Regions from separate parts of the Homo sapiens genome. Here all the other regions are linked to region 1. Evidence: fine-mapped expression QTL. A gene starts in region 1. Each other region holds a variant in brackets. All regions are shown on one strand. Distances are between the middles of the regions. Region 1 holds the start of UTRN (utrophin). Region 2 overlaps UTRN (utrophin). Region 3 overlaps UTRN (utrophin).

Region 1 (8,182 bases):
GGGCTCAAAGTGTGGCTCCTCAGCTATTCTGATCTAAAGCTAAGGCATGTTAAACCTGCAGCTTCCTGGGCCCCACCAGGCCTAGTCAATCAGAATTTCTGGGGAATGGCAATCAATCTGAATTTAAAATATATTCTCTGGGTAATTCTTGAGTGCATTAAGTTGTAAGGAACTCAGCCTTTGTACTATTTATTTTCTAAAAGTTTCATGTGCTATTATTTTTTGTTTCTTCAATTCTATTACAAAAATTTATATGATAAAATTTTATCAACTCGCACACATACTAGACGTTTGACTGAAGAATTTACCAACAATACTCAGCAAAAATCCAGTATCTATTACACACAAGCTCCAGATTTATACTTTTTTTACCTGAAAAATATAAGAAAGGCTAAATTCCCTAAACTTTCCTCCTCTCTTAAATGCTTGTATGTGGGGCTTTAATTATAGTCAATACCAAAGGTAAAGCTAAAGGAGTGTCTTGTTTTTTTATACATTGTGTATTTTCCCCTGTTTCTACTGTTTAAAGAAAAACTGCATTTATATAGTCTTGCACAAAGTTTAGTAGCAAATGTTTTCCTTTTGGTTCTTATATTAGGATGCAGTTCCCTGTATGGGAATAATATTTATGTGAATCATGTCTATATACACTATACACACATATACATATATCTTTATATATGAATCTATATATACACTACTCATATCATAATTTTCTCCTTTGTCAAAGGCTTTCTATCCTGCAGTGACACTAACTCCATTTTCCTTAATTTTCACAGTTCTGTGGTGACAGCAGGGCAATTCTGACTTTGGGTTACCAGTAGACCCAGGGCCACATTCCTATTATTCTCTCCAGATGTTCTACAGCGATCTGATCTTTGGGATGAGCAGACAAAACCCCACTGAGCATCCTTGTTGCAGGCCCATTACCTTAGAGGCCTGTCTCCACCGTGCCTCACCTAGATTCTCTGGATATAAAGGAAGATCACACTGTGCTTTATGGAAATATAGCCCTCTGTGGTCAAGATCGCCCACCAAATGTGGTTTCCCTACCAAATAAAGAAAGTGTTGGGGGACAGGACCAGCACAGGACCAGCTTGAGATCTCTTGATCGTTCCATCAACAAGAATTCCGCCCTCCCTCCCTCCCTTCCTCTTCCTTCCCTCCCTCCCTCCTTTATTTCTCTCTTTCTCTCTTTCTTTCTTTCTGACAGTCTTGCTCTGTCACCCAGGCTGGAGTGTAGTAGCGCCATCTTGGCTCACTGCAACGTCTGCCCCGGGGTTTAAGCGATTCTCATGCCTCAGCCTCCTGAGTAGCTGGGATTATAGGCATGTGCCACCACGCCCAGCTAATTTTTGTATTTTTAGTAGAGACAGAGTTTCTCCATGTTGGCCAGGCTGATCTCGAACTCCTGACCTCAGATGATCCACCTGTCTCGACCTCCCAAAGTGCTGGGATCACAGGTGTGAGCCACTGCACCCAGTCAACAAGAATTTCTTTAGCCTCTTTTGCTCATTACCTACAAAGAGCATCAGTCTCTGCCTGGAGAGAAGGGCTAGAAACAGATAGGGCACAGGTCCCCAGGTAACTGGCTGTAAGCCACTATGGCTGATATGCGGGGCAGGTCACTCCTGCACAGAAGGTGGCTTGTTGGCCTCCTGTTCCATCTCTTACAGGCGTTGAGGAAGCTCGACTAAACATCTCCTCACAGCTTACAATCCCAGAAATCATAGGACCCTAAACGTGCGTTTTTCAAAATTTTTGAGCTAAAATGATGTATTACTTTGTAAATTGTGAAAAGTGTCACAAATATTAATTTAAGTGACAACATCATCAAACACTCCAATGTGGCCTTATTATCTATTTTGAAGGAGAAAATCTGAGTTTCATCAACTCAACCAGGATACAGTGAGTGATAAGCAACTTTTGGTGTCTGCAAAATGATCAGTTAAAAAAAACCTGGGGGCTGGGCACGGTGGCTCATGCCTGTAATCCCAGCACTTTGGGAGGCCCCGTCTCTACTAAAAATACAAAAAATTAGCAGGGCGTGGTGGTGGGCGCCTGTAGTCCCAGCTACTAGGGAGGCTGAGGCAGGAGAATGGCGTGAACCCAGGAGGCGGAGCTTGCAGTGAGCGAGATCGCGCCACTGCACTGCAGCCTGGGCAACTGAGAGAGACACTGTCAAAAAAAAAAAAAAAAGAAAGAAAGAAAGAAAGAAAAAATCCTGGAGTCCCTCTATGTGACCATACTCAGCTAGCACTTGATCTGTTCTTTTCTTATGGCATTTATCTCCCGGATCTTGTATATACTTACTTGTTTACATGTCTTATCTCACCTACTACATTCCAAGTTCTTTAAGGGTAAGATCACTATCAGATTTATCTTTGCTTTACCCACAGAACCAGCAAACCTGACAGCCCTAAACTGATGCTTGTTAAATGAATGAATGAAGTGAATGAATAAAATCATACCCATTTCAAGTTAATCCTTTGGATTTTATTTGGCTTATACGTAGAAAATCATCAAAAGGAAGGAAACTGTCCTAGAAACCTTACAAGGAAGAGTCTCTTTTGGGAATCTCCTACCTGCCCCCTCCCTGGAGCACTTAGGGATGGATGGGGGAAACTTTCACTATAACAAAAGGCGAGTAAACTCTTTCTGAAAATTAGTTTAAGGCCCCTAGTGGTTTAATCTTTACTGCCGCGTAAATTAACTCAAATATTAAGCCAGCAATAAACCGGCGCTCCAGTATCAACCATCCTTTTCTCTGTTAATACGAACTAGGAACTCAGGTTGCTGTTTTCTTTCCCCTCCCACGTGTGCTGATCGTGTAAAAGAATCACAGGAACACACGAGCAATGAAATGTGTAAATAAGAAAAATGCACACACATCACGAGCTCATTTCTTCCCAGATATTTTTTGGTCAACCTCTCAAGCTTGGAACAGGCTCTATAACAGATGTGCGTTTGTGTGTGCATATTGGAAAACAGAAAAATAAGGTCAGCGCAAACACTACTTGTAATACAAACTAATGTAAGAGAAAACTTCTTTTTCAATATTAACAACGACACTAGAGAAATAATGTAAAATAAATATACGGTTGGAACTAGGGGTAAAAAAAAAATCAGCAACGTCAGCAAACTGAGATGGGGTGAGTTGGAAGGCAGATTGGAATTTATCTCTTAAAAAAATATCACCCTAACTAGAGACCTGTTTTGCCTAAGGGGACGTGACTCACATTTTCGGATAATCTGAATAAGGGGAATTGTGTCTGCTCGAGGCATCCATTCTGGTTCGGTCTCCGGACTCCCGGCTCCCGGCACGCACGGTTCACTCTGGAGCGCGCGCCCCAGGCCAGCCAAGCGCCGAGCCGGGCTGCTGCGGGCTGGGAGGGCGCGCAGGGCCGGCGCTGATTGACGGGGCGCGCAGTCAGGTGACTTGGGGCGCCAAGTTCCCGACGCGGTGGCCGCGGTGACCGCCGAGGCCCGGCAGACGCTGACCCGGGAACGTAGTGGGGCTGATCTTCCGGAACAAAGTTGCTGGGCCGGCGGCGGCGGGGCGAGAGCGCCGAGGGGGAGCCGGAGCGCTGCAGAGGCGCGGGCCGGAGGGCTGGCGCTGATCTGCACCCTTCTCATCTGGAGAGCGGACCCCTGGCTGCCCGGAGGCGAGCCCCTTCCCGGGGGGTGGGGGCGGCAACGCGCGACCCAGCGGTCCTGCGCCCCACCCTCCCTCCTCCGCCTCCAGCGCTCGGCTCCAACAAAGGGGCAGGCCCGCAGCGGGGAGGAGGAGGAGGAGCCGCCGAAGGAGCGAGCCTCTCTCGCGCACAAAGTTGTGGAGTCGTTTTTCCTCGGAGCAGGGAAGCGGGCAGCAGCAGCCGGCCGCGGGCTTTCTCCCGCCGAGGGGCGAGGAGGAGCCTCTGGCTCCAGAAGCCGATTGGGGAATCACGGGGAGCGGCGCCCCCCTTCTTTTGGGTCATTTCTGCAAACGGAAAACTCTGTAGCGTTTGGCAAAGTTGGTGCCTGCGCGCCCCTTCCAGGTTTGCGCTTTGACTGTTTTGTTTTTGGCGGAACTACCAGGCAGGAAGATTGCACAAGTAAGGGGCGTTTTCAGTCGGGTGTCAATTTCTCTTTCTTTCTTTCTTTTTTTAAAATTTCGGTTCGTGTCTGCTTCTCCAAGCTTTATTTTTTTTTTTAAATACATCGCACCACCAAACTAACACTCGCACACACCCCCGCGGTTACTCCGTGTCAAACTCCTAGAGGAGCCCTTGGCCAGCTCGGGGTGCGGCGGTGGCGACCGGCAGGCGAGGAGGCCCGCGGGCAGCAGGTAAGCCCATGCATTATTGAAGCCTCGGGCTGGTAATGTGACTACAGCCCCCGAGGGAATGGGGCGGGGGCCGGGAGGAGGATGGCTCTTTCTGTGGTTCTTCCGCCTGGGATCGGCGTCCCGAGCTGCTTCCCAAGTCCCAGAGTCGAAGATGGGAGTAACTTTTGCGTGCCCTTTCCTCGGGGCCTCAGTTTAGCTCCCCGCGGTGCGAGAGAGAATGCCGGAGGCGTGGAGAGCTCGGGCGTGGAGGTCCTTGGGATCCGTACTAGTTGTGAACGATCCAAACTTATCTGACCAGCTCTGTGCTGCCTCCCTGCTCCCCTAATCTTCCTCCCCGCCGGGGTGACAGAGTCGCCCTCCGTGCATCGCGCGGTGCAGGGCGCTGGGCCAGTGATTTGCAAGAGGGGACGTGGCCTCTTAGGAGAGTCTGTCACAGACACCCGGGCCCGGGGAAGGCGGGGCTCCGGCGGTGTCCACAGGAGAGGGTGGGCAGAGGGTGGCTGTGTGGTCGGCGGCCAGCGGAGCGCTTCCCAGCCAGCCGCCCGGCGGGGAACGTGCTTGACCTCTGGGTGGTTGCTGCTCCCAAGGGTGGGGCTCCGGAGAGTGTGGCGCGATCGCCAAGCTCCCTGGCAGCGGCCCTGGAGAGACTGAGGGGACAGGAGGAGGGGGGCGCCCCATTGGTGTGTAGTCCCGCGCAGTCGCCGGCTCTCCTTTTCCGGACTCTGGGGATCTCTTGCTGCAACTGACAAGGTAATTCATGCCCCGCTTTGGCCCGGGGTCCGAGGCTGTGGTTGCTCAAGGCCACTTAAAAACCAACAAAGCACCAATTGAAGGCTGTGCAACTTTCAGATGGCAGGTTGTTCAAAGGATTTTTTCCTCCAAGCCTCAGATTATGAAAGGGACTCATTCCAGTGCGTTTTTCGAGGAGGAGGGAGAAAACGTTGCCCGACCTCCGAGAGAGCTGTGGGACCAGCACTTTATTTTACAAGGAACTGCAGAGCTCGGGTTCTAACTCCACGGCCCCGCTCTCTGAGGTGTTCAGGACAGGGCCTCCTCTTTCCCAGCCTTCAGGTCAGCCGGATCACCAGGGCCTTGCGGGCCAGTTCCCCCTGCCGCGGTTGGGAGGGTCAGTGCAGCGGTCGCCGCGGCCAGAGCGCGCGGAGCTCGGGGGAGGCCGGATTCCCTAGGTCTGAGCCGACCCTCCCGGCCGCCCGGCCGGGCGGCAGCGACCGCATCCATTCCTTTGTAAGTTGCACCGGCCTCAGGAAGTCGATCTGGGCCCTCCCGGTTCGTTGGCGGTGGGCGTGGGAGACGCAGCCTGCGGATAGCTCAGGGTCAGGGGAGAGGTGGAGGAATGCGAAGCTTGTGGGTAGTTCTGCGGTGACGGACAGGGTTGGCGTGGAACCATTCCCCGCCCCTTTTACCAGCCTTTATGGGACCGATGAGACAACTCTTTAACTCTCCTTTGGGTGTTTACCTAAAATTTATTGGCTCTGTAAACAGTATTAATCACAGTAGTATTAACCTTCCCTGGAGCGCTTCCGAGTGTAAATGGCAGTTCTTGGCACTCACCGTTTTCTTTTACTGTGTTTCAAGCAGAGCAGCAAACTCTTGTCCGCTTGGCTTCCTTTTCTACTATCTCAATCGTTCCTAGGTTTTGGTTCCTATAGTAAATTAATGAATAGTGTTTGCATTACACAGCATTTCCATCATAATGCACACTGTTGGATATATATGTGCTATATACATAAAATATAGTACAAAATAAAAATTATATACATATATTCATTGTATAATTCCTAAAATCTTAAAAAATTGAAACATTAGTTTTGTCTTTAAGGCTGTCACCTTATGTTTATTTTTTAAACACCTTATGTTTATTTCATACACTCTTGCTTGGTGGTCCATATGACAGCCGGAAGCGTTCTGAAGGGAGAGTTAGTGAATATCGACTTGACTGGATTGGTTTCAGTAAGAACATCTGGCTTTTACAGAATATCATTTGAGGGAAGGGAAATCTAGGGCAGAGGTAACAATAAATTGCATTTGTATAGGGCTTGAAGCTTCTAAAGCAACATCTCATTCATTGATTCTCAGTTTCTCACCTAGCCTTCTGTGAAGATGGTGTTCCCTCCATTTTATAGGTGTGGAAGACGGAGGGTCACACTGGGATGCATTGTTCGTGGTGAAACTTTGATTCTGTCTCCTGAGAACCAAAGATTCTGCATTTGGCAATTAGAAGGAGTCATCCTTTGCCTTAAGTGTACTCAAATTCCTCTGGCCATTAATGGCAAGTAACCTCAGTGGCTATCACTATTTAAATAGCCTTCTGTTATTCTTCTTTCTCCCCATTTTCCTCTGTACTCTGATCACCTTTTCTGCTGTATCTTTGCAACCTGTAAGGGATTTTCATTATCAAGAAGAGAAAAATTTGAAAAATCACCTTGAGGAGAGTGGCAAGTGAAACATTATAGTGAAGAAGTGTTACTGATAATGGGCAAATGGAATAAAGTAGTGTGTAAACAGTTGACTTTTCTCTTTTATGGGTGAATAAAGGCTTTGGGTAGCATAGAAGTGGAGATCTTGGCTAAGACCAATAGTGAAGAAAAGCATTAGACTTACTGCTCCAAAGTGATACACTGTAGTTCTTTCCAGGAAAGAGAATTTTTCCCTGGGCAAACTTAATTTTCCATGATAAACTTTTATAGACATTCTTCTGAACAAAGTTTTTGATTCTTGAATATAATAAAATACACTTAAGAATTTAGCAAATCCTTTATAGTTATGTACTTGAATGAAAGAATGTAATCATATAATAATCCATAAATTTTTAGCAGTAGTAGAGCCTATAAAAAATGAAAAAAGTTTTTTAGACTCTCATAAAATCTGTCAGATTGATGATCCAATCCTTTATATCCAACTCTCTCTCTCTCTCTTTTTTTTTTTTTTTTTTTTGAGATGGAGTCTCACCCACTCGGTCGTCAAGGCTGGAGTGCAGTGGCAGCGATCTTGGCCCACTGCAACCTTTACCTCCTGAGTTCAATCAATTCCCCTGCCTCAGCCTCCTGAGTAGCTGGGATTACAGGTGTTTGCCACCATGCCTGGCTAATTTTTATATTTTTAGTAGAGACAGGGTTTCGCCATGTTGGCCAGGCTGGTCTCAAACTCTTGACCTCAAGTGTTAGCCAGGTTGGTCTTGAACTCTGGACCTCAAGTGATCTGCCTGCCTCAGCCTCCCAAAGAGCTGGGATTACAGGCATGAGCCACCATGCTGGGCCCAACTCTCTTTTTGTCATCTCCGCTTATATAACTCAGAGGCATTTCAAGCTCTGCAAATCCAAATCACATTGATGATTCCTTTCTCCCAGCCTGCTATCCTCAGTGTTGCCCAGCTCAATGACTCACACTTCACCTAATTGCCTAAGCCAAAATTGGGGAGTCATTTTGCACATTTTGCACATTGGATATGAATCTCTCATATCCAATCAATTCCCAAATCCTATTGACTTTCTTTGATATCTAAATATCCCACATATTCACCCATTTCTTTCTATCTACTCTTGTTTAGACCACACTTGTTTCCTGCATATAATATTACAATAGAAAGAATAGCACAATAAACACCCAGATGTCCTTTTTATTTTATTTTATTTTATTATTTAAAATTTTTATTTACATGGAGTAGAGACAAGGTCTCACCATGTTGCCTAGGCTGATCTCAAACTTCTGGGCTCAAGTAATCCTCTCGCTTAAGCTTCCCAAAGTACTGGGATTACAGGTGTGAGCCACCTCGCCTAGACCCAGATGCCCTTTAACAAGTTTTCCCACTTACTTTATTTTTTTTGAGATGGAATT
Region 2 (8,182 bases), 65 kb after region 1:
GTCTCTACTAAAAATACAAAAATTAGTCGGGCGTGGTGGCACGTGCCTGTAATCCCAGCTACTTGGGAGGCTGAGGCAGGAGAATCACTTGAACCTGGGAGGTGGAGGTTGCAGTGAGCCAAGATCACACCATTGCACTCCAGCCTGGGTGAAAGAGCAAAACTCTGTCTCAAAAAAAAAAAAAATAAAATAAAAAAGCAGGCTTTTAAATGAGTAGCTACAGTGTTAAATATATTTAAATGCTGTGCTGGTTGAGTTCTGGTTCATTTAGATAACATTCTTTCCTGCCCTATGACCAATCAAAAGGCTTTAGGAAAATAGCATTTTTAAAATTAAAATGTATTTCAGTGCATGTTATTTTAATAAAAATAGAAAACCAATGTGTACATGATTTCCAATTTCACAAGGGCCTAGATTCTCCTCTCATCAGTTGCTATTGAACTGATTTTTTTGTGTGTGTCCATAGTGTAGGCTCTTTAGTCATCTTGTTAGAAATAAGGACATTAAATTTAATGTTAAAAATAATATTTTCAGCCAGGCACAATGGCTCATGCTTGTAATCCCAGCACTTTGGGAGCCCGAGGCGGGCAGATCACCTGAGGTCAGGAGTTCAGGCCAGGAGCCTGGCCAATGTGGTGAAACATCGTCTCTACTAAAAATACAAAAATTAGCTGGGTGTGGTGGTGGGTGCCTGAAATCCCAGCTACTTGGGAGGCTGAGGCAAGAGAATCGCTTGAACCCGGGAGGCGGGGGTTGCAGTGAGCTGAGATTGCGCCACTGCACTTCAGCCCGGGCATCAGGGCGAGACTCTGTTTAAAAAAAAAATAGATCTCTATCTCTATCACTATCTCTCTGTCTATCTATGTATCATCTATCTATCTATCTATCTATCTATCTATCATCTATCTATCTATCGATCTCTATCTTTATCCAGCTGTATCATCATTTTCACTAGATGCTAACAATAATATAACTGAGATAAACCAAAGTTTCAAAACAAGCTTGAAAATGTGAAATGAATAATTTGGAGGCGGGACTGGCCATTTAGGCATCTATGAAGGCCCAGATGACTCATGTCTGGAAATTGCCACTGCTCAGGAAACCACTCCTGGGAGCCCTGCTCGTTTTGCCATCCTTCCTGCTTTCTTGCCTGCTGACAGGACTCTATGTCAGCTGTTTCCTTTTTAGATGGAAGGGTTAAAAGATTCACTACTTGGGTCCCCCATTAGAATCACCAACATGCTTGTGCCCCACAGTCAGAGATCGTGACTTGATTGGACTGAGGCCCTGCTCTGTAGCTTGTCAAAAGCCAGCCAAGGGTGTCCAATGTGGAGGGTACAGGGGAATGTATTCGTCCCCCACTAGACTGAAAGCTCCATGGGAGGGAGTAGAGGCAGCTTTGTTACTGCTGCCTCCTAGCACCTGAATGTGTGCCTGATGTGCAGAAGAGGCTCAGTAGCTGCTTGTGGAATGAATGAATGAATTAGTTCCTTTGAGTAACAGGAAGTTGGAAGAAGATTGGACAGAGGCTTAGTTATGGTCTTTGCTGATGTAGGAGAGTGTGCTATGTTAGGCTGAACAGTGGCTGTCATCTTGGAAGACACTCCAGGAAAAGGTCACAGGGGAACAGGTGGCTGATCTGGGGGAATGCTGAACAGACCTCTCAGAAGAGACAAGGCTCCAGGGCAGTGGTGTCCTTATGAGGCAAGGCAGGTTGAGAACTTTGGGAAAGAGAATTTCATCAGGGGCTGAGTGTGTGTGTGTGAATGTGGATGTGAGGCCAGATGGGGACACTCCTGGGAGAATCTCCTGAACTGTGGCTTATTCTTTGTTTTTTTTTTTTGTTTTTTTTTTTGAGACTAAGTCTCGCTGTGTTGCCCAGCCTGGAGTGCAGTGACACAGTCTTAGCTCACTGTAGCCTTGACCTCCCAGGCTCAAGTGATCCTCCCACCTCAGTCTCCTGAGTAGCTGGGACTATAGGTATGTGCTCCCATACCTGGCTAATTTTTAATAGTTTTTCTGTAGAGATGGGATCTCACTATGTTGCCCAGGCTGGTCTTGAACTCCTGAGCTCGAGTGATCCTCCCTCTTGGCCTCCCAAAATGCTGGGATTACAGGCCTGAGCCACCATGCCCAGCCGTGACTCACTCTTAAAGGAGCTCAAGTCTTTTGTGTTGGAACTCCAGGAGGTTGACGACCACACTCATCTATTCAGTCAGCATTTGCTAGGTACCTAGCACACGCCCAGCTCTGGGGAGGTATGGGGATATAAAAATGAAGGTGATTTGATTCTTCCCCCGTGGAGGTTAGGACCTGGAAAGGATGGTGTGTGAAGTGAATGCTAGGTTTGCTGGTGGCTGAAAGGAAGGAACGTTGTCATCTTTGTCATATGTTAGGGATTGCCAGACCCACCAGTTGACTATATCCAAATAAAGGAACACAGAATTTGGAGTGATCACAGGGCAGTGAGATTTGTCTGGGAAGATATCTTAGGACTCGTGAATTTTTTGCAGATCTTAATAATTATAGAGAAAATGAGTAGGTGGTTAGGAAGACCAGGTAACTATAACTTACAGAGGTGAGAGAATGAGAATTGTTAAGTTGGGAGAAAAAGAGTAGAAAGAGCGACATGTGAAAGAAAAGAATCGGCCGGTGCGGTGGCTCATGCCTGTAATCCCAGCACTTTGGGAGGCCGAGGCGGGCAGATCACCTGAAGTCGGGAGTTCAAGACCAGCCTGACCAACATGGAGAAACCCTGTCTCTATTAAAAATACAAAATGAGCCGGGCCTAGTGGCGCATGCCTGTAAACCCAGCTACTAGGGAGGCTGAGGCAGGAGAATTGCTTGAACCTAGGAGGCAGAGGTTGTGGTGAGCAGAGGTTGCGCCATTGCACTCTAGCCTGGGCAACAAGAGCGAAACTCCATCTCAAAAAAAAACAAAAACAAAAGAAAAGAATCTTGGGTGGAGAAAATGAGAAATGGGATTAACATGGTACTGAGCAGTTCTTTTTTTTTTGTTTTGAGACGGAGTCTCGCTCTGTCGCCCAGGCTGGAGCGCGTGATGGGATCTCGGCTCACTGCAAGCTCCTCCTCCCGGGTTCACGCCATTCTCCTGCCTCAGCCTTCCGAGTAGCTGGGACTACAGGCGCCCGCCATCACGCCCGGCTAATTTTTTGTATTTTTAGTAGAGACGGGGTTTCCCCGTGTTAGCCAGGATGGTCTGGATCTCCTGACCTCGTGATCCGCCCGCCTCAGCCTCCCAAAGTGCTGGGATTACAGGCATGAGCCACGGCGCCTGGCCCTGAGCAGTTCTTTAAGGGATGAGACTTGGCCCTCAAGATCTGGGTTTCCATTACCCCTGCCATCGTCAGGGTAAGTCACTGAACCTCTGAGAAGGGGACTCCCAACCAGGAGGATCACAGGATCTCCCAACCAGGGAGGATGCCCCGGGAGAGTGTGGTCAGGATTCATGATGTTACACATTTTAAAGTTCTTTGCAAGCTATAGTAATAGTTCCAGGTAAATAAATGGAATAATAAATTCTGTAAAAATTATAAAAACCTAGTCTGTTGATAATGGGCTCTTTTAGGTAGAGTCTAGGGTAGGAAATCAAACATTATATTCATCATGGTACTTGAAATATATTTAAGCTGAAGCTGTGCACTCCATCATGTTTTTGATATATTTTTCCTTGGCATTACTTGAAAGGCATGCTCATGAAACTGGATTTGGATCTGTTTCATGTTTTCACTTGCGTTCTCTGACC[C/G]CTACTTAGAGGGCACCAGGTGCTTCCTATTCTAACCGTTTGCAAATTCAAGACTTGGTTGGAGGGCCATTCAGGGGACTGGTGTGGGGTTAGATAGGATCTGGACACAGCGACTCCCTCGCTCCTGCTCCAGTATTTTGACCTTAATTTGAACAGTTCAATGAACTGGCAACTGAAGTCGTTTTTTCCCACTGAACTAGACCTTTCATTGTTTTGCAGAGGAAGATGACTCATAGCCAGGTTCTACCATTGTGCTAAAGTGAAATTTTAGTCTAGGACTAAAGGAACACAGGCCAAACTTTCTGTCTGAGCTGCAGAGTATTGAAACTTAGATTGTGAGCTGGGCAGGAATTCCTGTGGCCCTCTGTGTGGAGTTGCTCTCAAGGAAAAGGAGCATTTAAATACGTTTTTGACTCCAAATTTAATTTTTAGTAATATAGTTCAAATGTCCTTTAAAATATCTTAAGTAATCAGACTGTTTTCTAAAAAAAAAAAAAATGTAATGCAAAATGAAAATTCTACAAAGTAGAAAACTGTCATTTCCTTCCTCTCTCCAAAACCATTGTTAATAGTTTCGTTTCTTCTGCTACCCTTGTTTTCTATGAATGTAAAAATGTATGCCTCTATGGGTGAGCATGGCTTTTCTTTTTTGAACCAAAATTGAAACCATCCTGATTTAGTGGCATCCCACTTAAAACATTATTAAAAACTACCTGTGTACATGTATCTTCGCTTACTTGGGCAATTGCTGGGGCAAATATGCTTTTACTGTTAAATCGTCATCTACAACAGATGACATGTAGAGAGATGAAATGTAGTCTATAGTTGTTTGAACTTGCATTTCTTTTTTTGTGGAACTGAACTTCTCTGCATATGTTTATTGGCTCTTTGGACAAATTCGTCAGTGATTTGGCTTTTCATGCATTGCTCATTTTCTTTTGTTGCTTGGATCCCTGACTTTTATACTCTTAATGATTCCAAGGGAAATTCCTACAAAATGGCAGATTTGGGAGGACTTATTTGAATTTCTTTTGAGTTCTAAAATGGTTAACTGCTACCTTAAAAGATAGATATTATTTTCAGATATCTAGGACAGAGGTTTGAGTCTTTGGACTTAGATTCTATAGTATTTTCTTTCTTTTTTTGGCTGATATGGAAGACGTCATCATCCCAAACTGTGCTGAGACTAGTAGTTATTTAGATACACTATTTTATTACATTTTCGTATACTGATAAATTATTTCCATATGGATGGTAAGTCCCAGATTTATTTATGAAAAAAACCATTTTTTATATATTTTATGGAACATGGAGTTAGCAGAAAGATGCTGTGGAGTTAGGCTTAAAATTAAGCCCTAACTATTCTGCCTCCTGTTTTGGGGCTGTTGTCAGTCTTTAAAGGTACATCTTTGTAAAATTTTTTGAACATAACTTGACAGATTGCAAGAAGGATTATAATAAATGGTGTCTGTTTGTGTTAGAGTATTTCAAGTCAGTACAGGAAAAAATACATTTAGATGCTAAGTGAAGATAAGACATTAGTTTAAATGAGGCCCCGTATGCACCATCATATTGAAAATTTACCAGTGTGTCCTCGTCCTTCAATTTAGATTCGTTAGTGATTTTTCACATCAAAGCATTGAAGCTGTAATTCTATGTTGGGTTCATTTAACCACAGATCCAGTAAATGGCAGGAAATAGAGAGCTATACAGGACAGCAAATGGCCTGCAGTTGTGTGGAGGATATCTTTGTGGCAAGATGCCCCAGATGTTTTGCTGTTTTCAAAGTTTGCTATCATTTGTTCAGAAAGGTTTTCATTGCTTGCAAGCAAGCAGGCAAGCAAAGGAAAAGGGCACGCAGCCGCCTCCCCTATGATTCTGTGCTCTTTGCCTTTGATGCCTTATATAAAAAGCTTTATTTAGTCTGCAGAGAGGTTATTTCTCCAAATAGAGGTGAACTGTCATAGTAGTCTGGAAACGTGATAGATTTCAGTTGAATGCCGCTGATCCAAATACTCTGAAAGGCTGGGCTGTGTGGCACTTGTAAGATAGGCACCTTGCACAGATTCTTCCAGGTCACTTGCACATATCGCCAGTAGAAATACCTCATCAGATAGCGATCCACTTGGCACTCTGAGAAGCAACTCCTATCACACCGACACTGCTACTTTTCTCCTGGCTCAGCCAGTCTCTTGCTGGGAACCTGCTGCCAGAGTTAGTCACTTGGCTTCTGCCCTGGCCTATTTTCTTGTTGACTTCTGGATTCTGTGCCTTTAGCTTCTCCTTGGACTCATTGGCCATTACTCTCTTTCTGGTGTTAGTAGCTCCTAGACTGTGTTTGACAGAAGAAATTTATTCCCCTAGCAAATTCACTTTCTACTGAGGTAACTCTAACCCACCCATGCAATCTAGCATCTGCCAATACTCTGAGACCCACTGATTGTTAATCAGTATTTATTATCTAACTCTGAGTAACGAGTGTTATAGCAGGAAAAGTAGAATCTTTTTTGTGTGTGTACGAATGTGGTTTAAGGGACTTTTGGGGATAGAGGAGAAATAAACACCTTGAAATGAATTATTATATTTTACCTTTGCCCATGTGAATTCTTTAAAATAATTATTAAATTCTCACTTTGCTTATATGCATTAAAAATTTCATAGTGATGGTATTTAAAGAGGGAGGTTATGGACATTTTGCAAGTTGGTTGAGGCAATAGTTCTCATTTCCCTTTTCATGTCCCACGGGACATGTCATATCTGTCTGCCTCCCTCCTATGCATTTCTCCTGCTGTTGCAAGGAGAATCTTATGTTTTATGATGAAAATTTATTTGGTGACTAAGTGAAGTGTGCACTATTCTTTTAAAAAGTCCTTGAGATTGCATTCTGTATATTTGCTGAATTTGTTACTAGGCCTTACGCTGCAACATTTCTGAGTAATCAAATCTAAATAAAAATAAAAGGTCGTTCAAGGTAAATCTATGTCTTGATTACTGAAATAAAGTATTGACATTTATTTCCCATAATTTGGGAAGTTATTCAGTAAATAATATTTGCCTGGTGTTTTATAATGAATCATTTTTATCATATTGGGTTTGTGTTAGGAAGACTGTCAGCATTGATTTTCCAGTAGTTTTCTAAATTTTCTCATCTATTTATGTTTCTTCTTCTTCTTTTTCTTTTTTTCTTTGAGACAGGGTCTTGCTCTGTCAACCAAGCTAGAGTGTAATGGCATGAGCTAGGTTCACTGTAGCCTCGATCTCCGGGGGTCAAGCAGTCCTCCCACCTCAGCCTCCTGAGTAGCTGGGATTACAGGCATGTGCCACCACGCTCAGCTCATTTTTCGGATTTTTTTTTTATTTGGGTAAGAGTCTCGCTCTGTTGCCCAGGCTGGAGTGCAGTGGTGCGATCTCAGCTCACTGCAACCTCCCCTTCCCAGGTTCAAGCGATTCCCTTACCTCAGCCTCCCGAGTAGCTGGGACTACAGGCGCATGCTACCATGCCTGGCTAATTTTTTGTATTTTTAGTAGAGATGGGGTTTCACCGTGTTAGCCAGGAACGTCTTGATCTCCTGACCTTGTGGTCCACCTGCCTCTGCCTCCCAAAGTGCTGGGATTTTAGGCGTGAACCAACGTGCCCGGCCCTTCTGATTTTTTTTTTTTTTTTTAAATAGAAACAAGGTCTCACTATTCCCAGGTTAGGGTCTTGAACTTCTGGGCCCAAGTAATCCTTCTGCCTTGGCCTCCCAAAGTGCTGGGATAACAGGCGTGAGCCACTGTGCCTGGCTATTTATGTTTCCTAATTACTGCAGTGCTCATGTTTCTGTCAGCTTCAACTATGCCACACATGACTAGGAATTAGAAATAAGAAAACAGTAACCAGCCTGGCCAACATGGCAAAACCCTGTCTCTACTAAAAATACAAAAATTAGCTGGGTGTGGTGGTGAGTGCCTGTAATCTCAACTACTTGGGAGGCTGAGGGACGAGAATCGCTTGAACCTGGGAGTCGGAGGTTGCAATGAGCTGAGATACTGCCATTAAACTCCAGCCTGGGCAACAGAGCGAGACTGTCTAAAACAAACAAACAAACACACACAAAAACAAAAACAAAAAAACCAAGGAGCCAAAAATAAATGACTCAGTGAACATTTATTGAGCAACTGTGGTTTGCTGGGTGCTGCGGTCGTTGTTGTGAAGGTGCTGGGATGTTTTAAAGTTGGTTTTAAACTTAAGGATTCTACTTACTGGCAGCCTAGAACCACTGCATATGCCTTGCAGAGATGATGATGGACACTTGTGTCCTCACCTGTGCAGTGCAGGCACATCAGTGAAGAGCCTTAGATTCTCATTTTGCAACTGTTTTCACACTTGGGTATCGGTTTCTAGATCTAAAGCAGTAAATGAGAAAGGCAGTGGGT
Region 3 (8,182 bases), 340 kb after region 1:
GAGATAAATTGGTGCCATGTTCAGTGAGAAGCTGGCAAATTTATGAAGGAATGTGCTAATGCAAATACTTATGAATTGATTTGCTCTACATATTTTCCCTAGGGCCCCTTAGTCCTCTATTACTTATTAGAATCTTTACCTTCTGTACCACAGAAGTAAACCTAAAGCACAGCCTTACTAAGATTGTTTTTGCTTTCATGGGGCCAGTTGAATATATTTCATCTTCCTTTTATGTGACAAAAATAATTGAGAAACATCAAATGATGTTTAATTGTTTTGAAAACATAAACAAAACTGGAGATTTTATAAAGCCTTGTTCTAAGCTTGAAAAGAAGGAAAAAAAATCAGTTTCTGGCTGAAAAGTTTCTGTTGACACTGGACCGATCAAACAGTTTTCTTTCAGACAATATTTCTATAGCTGTATCACAGAAATTAGGGGCTGACAGTGACCAGTAGTTTATTTTCATTGCCTCATACTTTCAAAGAAAGCAAATATGGACTTGTATAGTTATTAATTAAAAATATGTTAAGCAGTGATGGGTGTTTATTTAAAGAATTCATGCAAATCTTGATTTACATTTTTAAACTAGTCTATTATCTCTCACCTTTTCAGTTTGTTTACCATGGTACTGCAAAAATTATTTCAACAAACATCTGAAAAACTCTCCTTATCACAGGGTCAGTAATAAATAGTTTGTTATCCCAAGCATGGCTTTCAGAGACGTCTGCAGGTTTTCTGGGCACAAAGTATCACTCCAATCTCCTTTAAATCAGTTTCCCTCTCGCAACTGGTCAAGGGCCAGACTAGAGAAGAACCCAAATGACATTCCGACCTCAAACGTGAATCCGCTTTCCTCCCCGCCTTTCTGCATTTCTCCAATTCTACTCCACCTTCATGAGTTAGAAATAATTCCTCTTTTAAGGCAGAAAAATCGGTAGATTTGGTTACAGTGGGTTTGCACATGTCCACAGCTGCCTACAGGCCACTCAGTTTCCCCCAACACTGAGATTGCTGCCTCTGTAGCAAGTTTGTGTTGTGGCTTTTCTTTTTTCTTTTGAGACGGAGTCTCGCTCTGTCGCCCAGGCTAGAGATGCAGTGGCACAATTTCGGCTCGCTGCAACCTCTGCCTCCCAGGTTCAAGCAATTCTCCTGTCTCAGCCTCCCGAGTAGCTGGGACTACAGGCAAGCGCCACCACGCCCACCTAATTTTTGTACTTTTAGTAGAGATGGCGTTTCACCGTGTTGGCCAGAATGGTCTCGATCTCTTGACCTTGTGATCCACCTGGTGTTGTGGCTTTTCTTATACACAAATCACAGTCTGCGTTTGTGTTACCTGCATGTCTCTTTTAGGCATTTCAGTTTGCAGCCTCTGGTTTATATCTTATGTCTTTGTAGATCATTGAGAAATAAGATTTGATATATACAAACAAAACACTGACCTAGTTTTAGGCCCCATTCAGTAACCTTTTGCCCTACCTGTGTGTGTGTGTGCACTACGCGGCAGATGGGGGGTTAGGGGGCTGGGGAGGAGCATGGCACAGTGGGAGGATGAATGGGATAGGAGGGTGGGGTGGGGTAGGGTTGGGGGTAGAGTTGTCTCCAAGAGGAAGATGTTGGGTACAGTTGTGCTTTGCACAAGGGCATTACATCTAAATGGTGTCATTCCCATTGTAAAGGCCAAAGCATTGTCAAAGGGAGTAATAGCTGTTACATTCATTTATCGGTTTACTTTCTGTTTCTTCATGTGATTCAGATAAGAGGCGTTTTTAATAATATTGATAACCCTTATCTTTCTGTCTTTGAATTCATTGCTCTATTTTGTAACTCTGTTAATATGATCTTTTTAAAAACTATGGTGAAATATACAAAATATGGCATTTTAACCATTTTAAGTGTACAAATCAGTGGCATTAGAAACATTTACAGTGGTGCAACTATCACCATTAGCCATCTCTGGAATTTTTTTATTATCTCAAACGGAAACTCTGTTCCCATTAAACAGTAATTCCCCACTTCCTCCTTCCCTCCAATCCCTGGTAATGGCCACTCTACTTTCTGTACCTGAGAATTTGACTACTCTTACCTTATACAAGTGGAATTATACAATATTTGTCTTTTTGTGACTGGCTTATTTCATTAGCATAATGTCCTGAAGGTTCATCCAGGTTGTAGCACATTTCTGCATTTCCTTCTGTGTTTTTTTTTTTTTTTTTTTTTGAGGTGGAGTCTCGCTCTGTCACCCAGGCTAGAGTGCAGTGGCATGATCTCAGCTTACTGCAACGTCCGTCTCCCGGGTTCAAGCGATTCTCCTGCCTCAGCCTCCTGAGTAGCTGGGATTATGGGTGTACAACACCACTCCCGGCTAATTTTTTGTAGTTTTAGTAGAGACGGGGTTTCACCATGTCGGTCAGGCTGGTCTCGAACTCCTGACCTCGTGATCCACCCGCCTCGGCCTCCCAAAGTGCTGGGATTACAGGCGTGAGTCACCTTGCCTGGCCAATTTTCTTCTTTTTTAAGGCTAATTATTATGCATATATCACATTTTGCTTATCTCTTTATCATCTATGGGTACTTGGGTTTTGACTTCTTGGCTATTGTGAATAATGCTGCTATGAACATTGGTGTACAAGTATCCGTTTTAGTCTCTGCTTTCATTTCTTTGGGGTCTATATAAACATGACGTTTTAATCAGATATTTTATTCACCTCTCAAAGCTCTTGTTCCAGTGTTCACTTCCTTTGAAAAATCTGTATGAATATAGTATTCTTTTATTATTGTACTCCTGAGAGGAGGGTGTTAGCCCCTTTTTTTTGAAATGTGTGCAGAACTCCAGTGCTTAAAACTTCCACCAGAAACCATTGGTTTCTATCCCACAAGAATTCCACTGAAATGCTTCTCTTTGGAAGCCCTACTGAGCTGTTTAAACTGTGTTTCTTTAGAACTTCCAACATTTTCAGCTTTTCCTTGACTTTTTCTCTAATAGACATGCTTTAGTTAAAGCTCCTTCATTCTGAGTTGTTCTGTGAACTAGATTTCATGGTTTACTAACTCATATCCTAAATAGAATCATCCAAAAGAACGCATAGAAACATTCTGTTGATTCCATTTTGGTTGGTATGTGACTATTAAGGGTTCTTACAGTATGGTGAATCTCAGATTCCTCAGGGGGCTCCCTGAGGCTGAGGATGATAGATCTGACGATTCACAACTCTCATCTCTTTGGGATACATTGGTCATTGTTACAGAGTTAAACTGCCCGGGCAGATAGGAGGTTCTGGAGTTGAGGGCTGGTTTAACTGATCAGGGCATTTAACCTGTGTGGCATTGGACCTGTAAAATATGACAAATCTTTGGGCTGGAGGAATAAGGTTCTGCAACTGTTAAATTTGATTAATGATTACCCTGTGTATGGAAAATTGATTATTACATTGGTAGCTCTCTTTATGAAATTTTCTTTTATTCTGAGCATGGCCAATAGCAGTACTTATCCACATTCTTGAAAATCTTTCCCTTTGACTGTGACATACAAATCTTCATTGCTTACCTTGAATCTTAATATCATGCGTGAGCAAAGTGTTAGCATATTTGCTTATTTGCTCTTACTTATTTTTCAGAAGGTGCTACATAGTTTAAAAAAAAAAAGCAAAAAGGATGTGTAGTAAAAAATCTAGTGTACTGCGTCCTAAATGACGCATCATGACCATAGACTGTCACCGCCCTTGCAAGAGGCAGCCACCGATGCCAGTTTCTTGTGTGCTCTTCCAGAGATACTTGCTGTATTGTCTTTTATTTTAAAGTGTGGCATACATACAGGAAAGTATGTAAAACATACATGGACAGCATGAAGAATCATAATTAAAACAATCACTATTCCAAGTTATTGCTGATCCTTAGAAGCTGTCTGTGCCTCCTTGATCAGATCCCCCTTCTTCTCTCAAAAAGTAACCTCTATTCTGAGTCTTGTGATTCCATGTCCAGCAAGGAAGCAGGGATGTTGCATCCTAAATGCCTAAGTGTTTAAGTCTAGAGACTAATTCCTTTAAGCATTGTTGGATTGTTCCTGGTGCTTTTGAACTCCAATGTAGATGTTGTCATGTAATCACTGTGCTCCTCATCTGAGCTGAAACTTTGCTTCTGCTTTAGCCATGGCATGATTTAGATATGTGAAAGATAATTCCATCTCCTTTGTAATTTAATTTATTTGTGTCATTTTAGGCATATTGCATACCTGCTAATGTAGAATGGAGATCTAGAATATGGAAGACAGTTTAAAACATTTTAAAGCATTCAAATGTGGCATTCTGGCCGGGCGTAGTGGCTCACGCCTGTAATCCCAGCACTTTGGGAGGCTGAAGCAGGCGGATCATGAGGTCAGGAGATTGAGACCATCCTGGCTAACATGGTGAAACCCCATCTCTACTAAAAATACAAAAAAAAATTAGCCAGGCGTGGTGGTGGGTGCCTGTAGTCCCAGCTACTCGGGAGGCTGAGGCAGGAGAATGGCATGAACCCAGGAGGCGGAGCTTGCAGTGAGCCGAGATCTCGCCACTGCACTCCAGCCTGGGTGACAGAGCGAGACTCCATCTCAAAAAATAAATAAAAAATGAAGTGGCATTCTGATTGGGAGTTACTAAGCATATATATTATAGGAAGGATTAACACTCAAAAGGAGAGCTTAG[T/G]CTTGTTAATTTTCATGCTTTGCTGAGGGCCTGTGTATTAGCCTGTTCTCACCCTGCTAATAAAGACATACCTGACACTGGGTGATTTATAAAGGAAAGAGGTTTAATTAACTCACAGTTCCACATGGCTGGGGAGGCCTCACAATCGTGGTGGAAGGCAAAGGAGGAGCAAAGTCACGTCTTGCATGGCGGTGGGCCAGAGAGTGTGTGAGGGGAACTCCCCTTCATAAAACCATCAGATCTCGTGAGACTTATTCACTATTATGAGAGCAGCATGGGAAAAACCTTTCCCCCTGATTCAGTTACCTCCCACAATACGTGGGGATTATTACAATTCAAGGTGAGATTTGGATGGGGACACAGAGCCAAACCATATCATCCTGATACAAAACAGGTCATTAATAAATATTTATTGAATAGAATTGAGCTGGAGAGTTTGTTATATGCATATTTAAGTTACTCTGCATACCATTAATATGTTTCCTCGGTTTGTAGTCCTGAAGATTAGGCTTGAGTTCAGTATTTATCTGCTTATGTGTCCTGTGCTGCAACTGTCACCCTCCTTGTCCCTCATTCAGCCCTGCTCTTTCACAATAACCACCCCAAGAAGACTTTTCAGATTTTTTTTTCATCTGCATGTAAAAAAAAGAAGAAGAAAGAAGATACTTTTATTATTTTGGTTTTGGTTCTTCTCTCTTCCCTGCTTTGCCTTCCCTTCATACATGCAGTGGTATTAGCGGTCATGTCCCCTGACCTTGGTTGAGGCAAAGCAGAGGGTGTCATATCAGTTGCAGTGGAAAGATCCTTCTCTGTCCTTGTCTGTAGCTGAACCTGCTAAGTGATATTCCCTTCTAGTATGAGGATGGAGTACAAGTTTTTGAGGTTGCATTGCTGAAGGTAAAACCAAAAGAGAGAGAGAGAGAAAGAGAGAGTGAGTGTGTGTGTGTGAGAGAGAGAGGTGTGTGTGTGTGTGTGTGTGTGTGTGTGTGTGTAACTATTCTTTTGAAGATGACTTGGAACTATTCCTAAGTAACCTCCTGTCTGGCATTCACTAATTTCACCTGGCCAACTCCAGCAATGCTGATCTTAGGATATCTTATTGTATAGCTTATATTCCAAATATTGGAGGAAAGAGAGGGAGTTTGGAAAGAAGTTTTAGTTTAGAGAGCTCTTAAAGTACTCTTGGCTCATCATTCTTTAAATTCCAAAAATGACTAATTTGTGGGGATACATAATTAAGGAAGAAAAGGTTTTGTGAGGGAAAGGAGTAGCAGGGAGTGCTGAGAGCTTGGCGTATGTATTGGAAAATTGTGGTAACTTAACAGGTAATCAAGGATGTTGAGAGAGGTGCTTGTCATCATTTCAAAAGAGCGTAGAATATTTTATTTCATTTTGTCTACTGTGGATCGGTTCTCCTCTCATTTACTTCTTTTCACATTTCATATTTGGGAGGGCTTTGGGCTCTATCTTCTATTTCCTTCTATTAAAAAAAGTTTTATAAGTTATTCCACTTGGCATTCGGAACACAATAATGTCATACTTCACTGAGGCATACTAATGCTCTGGAAAGAAAGAAAAAGAAGGAAAATTAATTTAGAGGGAATGGAGGCTAAATTTTCCATGGTGAAGAAATTCTGACCTTTTCTGAGTTATCGTAAAAGACTGACATTGCTACCCTTTGGATGTTAAGAAAAAGTCTTTCAGATACCTTGGCTTGTAAGGGACCTGGGAAGCGCCAGGGTCCATCAAAAATGTAAAGACATTTATTAGAACATGCATATCCGAAAGCTTTCTGAATTCTGTGGGGACCATCTAGCTTTTACATGATCTTGAGGGAACCAAAGTTGTACTGAGAAAACCCAGTTTCCTCTTAATTCCATCCTATGTGAAAACAACTTAAGTCTCAACTGCACTAAGTTATGAAAATGGATCCTCTTTTTTTAACATTTGGTTTTTGGTTATTCATATTGTCTATATTCTGTTCTATAATTGTATCCAAGTGTTAAAATATATTTTATAAATATACTGACACTGAAAAAGAAATCAAAAGCTGAGAAACGTTTGTGAATATGGCTGGAGAGTCTCAGTAAGATGGGGGACATCTCCTCAAATTGAAGATCTGGGAAGTAAGTAATAGAAACTTACAGACAGATTGAGGTGCAGTTTTTTTTCTACTTTTTTTTCCTGAAAATTTCAGAAATATGAGAAGTGAAATAATAGCAAACATGACTCAGACCTTTATAAATTGTCTTTCTTGACAGCAGAGATGTACAATTTTGTAAAATATTGTCCTCAGTCTTGAACTGCAGAAACTCCTTTCTCTGATACCTGCGGTCTTATTTAATTTTTACATCTTAACAGCAAGAGCATACCCGTGATTTGTTTTCACAAATGTTAGAAATACTGTGTAAGAATAGACTTATTTTTATATTGTAAACTTTTACTTTTTTTTTTTTTTTGAGACTGAGTTTTGCTCTTGTTGCCTAGGCTGGAGTGCAATGGCAAGATCTTGGCTCACTGCAACCTCCGCCTCCCGGGTTCAAGCGATTCTCCTGCCTCATTCTCTCAAGTAGCTGGGATTATAGGCATGCACCACCATGCCTGGCTAATTTTGTATTTTTAGTAGAGACAGGGTTTCTCCATGTTGGTCAGGCTGGTCTTGAACTCTCAACCTCAGGTGATCTGCCCGCTTTGGCCTCCCAAAGTGCTGGGATTACAGGCATGAGCCACCATGCCTGGCCCAACTTTTACCTTTTTAAAGTATGTTTTTAAACAACCAATAATATTTGGCATAATTTAGTATTTTGCCAGTGCTTCATTGCTTATGTGCAATGAGGCATTTAACAAAATAAATTGGACATATATATTTATAATTATTTTACCTATTCCGTCAGATAGTACATTTCTTAAGGAGTAAGGAAACTTGAAATATAACTCACTACTTCTCCTTTTTTTTTTTTTTTTTCCTGAGACGGAGTCTTGCTCTGTCACCCAGGCTGAAGTGCAATGGCGCGATCTCGGCGCACTGCAAGCTCCGCCTCCCGGGTTCACGCCATTCTCCTGCCTCAGCCTCCTGAGTAGCTGGGACTACAGGCACCTGCAACCACGCCCGGCTAATATTTTGTATTTTTTTTAGTAAAGACGGCGTTTCACCGTTTTAGCCAGAATGATCTCGATCTCCTGACGTCGTGATCCGCCCGCCTTGGCCTCCCAAAGTGCTGGGATTACAGGCGTGAGCCACCGCGCCCGGCCTGCTTCTCCATTTTGTTCACAAAATATTTTTTCCTCAGAAGTGTGGCATTGAATGATGTATTGTTTTGTAGTGAGTACATTATCTCAGTGAACACACAATTTCTTTCAGATAGTCACCAGAGTAGTCATCAAAAGGAAAAGCAATCTAAGTACCATTTAATGGGCTGCACTACACTAATATTCTATTTGATGAATTAACTGCATGTTTTTAGTTATCTGTTAGACTAGTTTTCATTCTTTTCCTTCCCTT

What was found. PIP is the estimated chance that this variant, and not a neighbour inherited with it, causes the effect.
Region 2: its variant is fine-mapped to the expression of UTRN in whole blood (TOPMed, PIP above 0.99).
Region 3: its variant is fine-mapped to the expression of UTRN in whole blood (TOPMed, PIP above 0.99).

Annotation. Positions count from the first base shown.
Region 1 is chr6:144,281,495-144,289,676 of GRCh38, forward strand. It overlaps UTRN (utrophin), which reads left to right and starts at 3,841. Exons shown (of 75, transcript NM_007124.3): 1 at 3,841-4,327. LOC124901418 reads left to right here and starts at 5,004. Exons shown (of 1, transcript XM_047419641.1): 1 at 5,004-6,460. The coding sequence starts at 5,177. The coding sequence ends at 5,785. RefSeq lists an enhancer at 3,211-3,280 and silencers at 3,411-3,470, 3,681-3,780.
Region 2 is chr6:144,346,007-144,354,188 of GRCh38, forward strand. All of the region lies in intron 2 of UTRN (utrophin), which reads left to right. Among named protein-coding and RNA genes, the nearest start is that of SNORA98, 56 kb to the right of the region's middle. RefSeq lists enhancers at 1-29, 3,173-3,282. The variant C/G (reference allele first, on the strand shown) is at 3,767.
Region 3 is chr6:144,625,600-144,633,781 of GRCh38, forward strand. All of the region lies in intron 51 of UTRN (utrophin), which reads left to right. Among named protein-coding and RNA genes, the nearest start is that of SNORA98, 220 kb to the left of the region's middle. The variant T/G (reference allele first, on the strand shown) is at 4,681.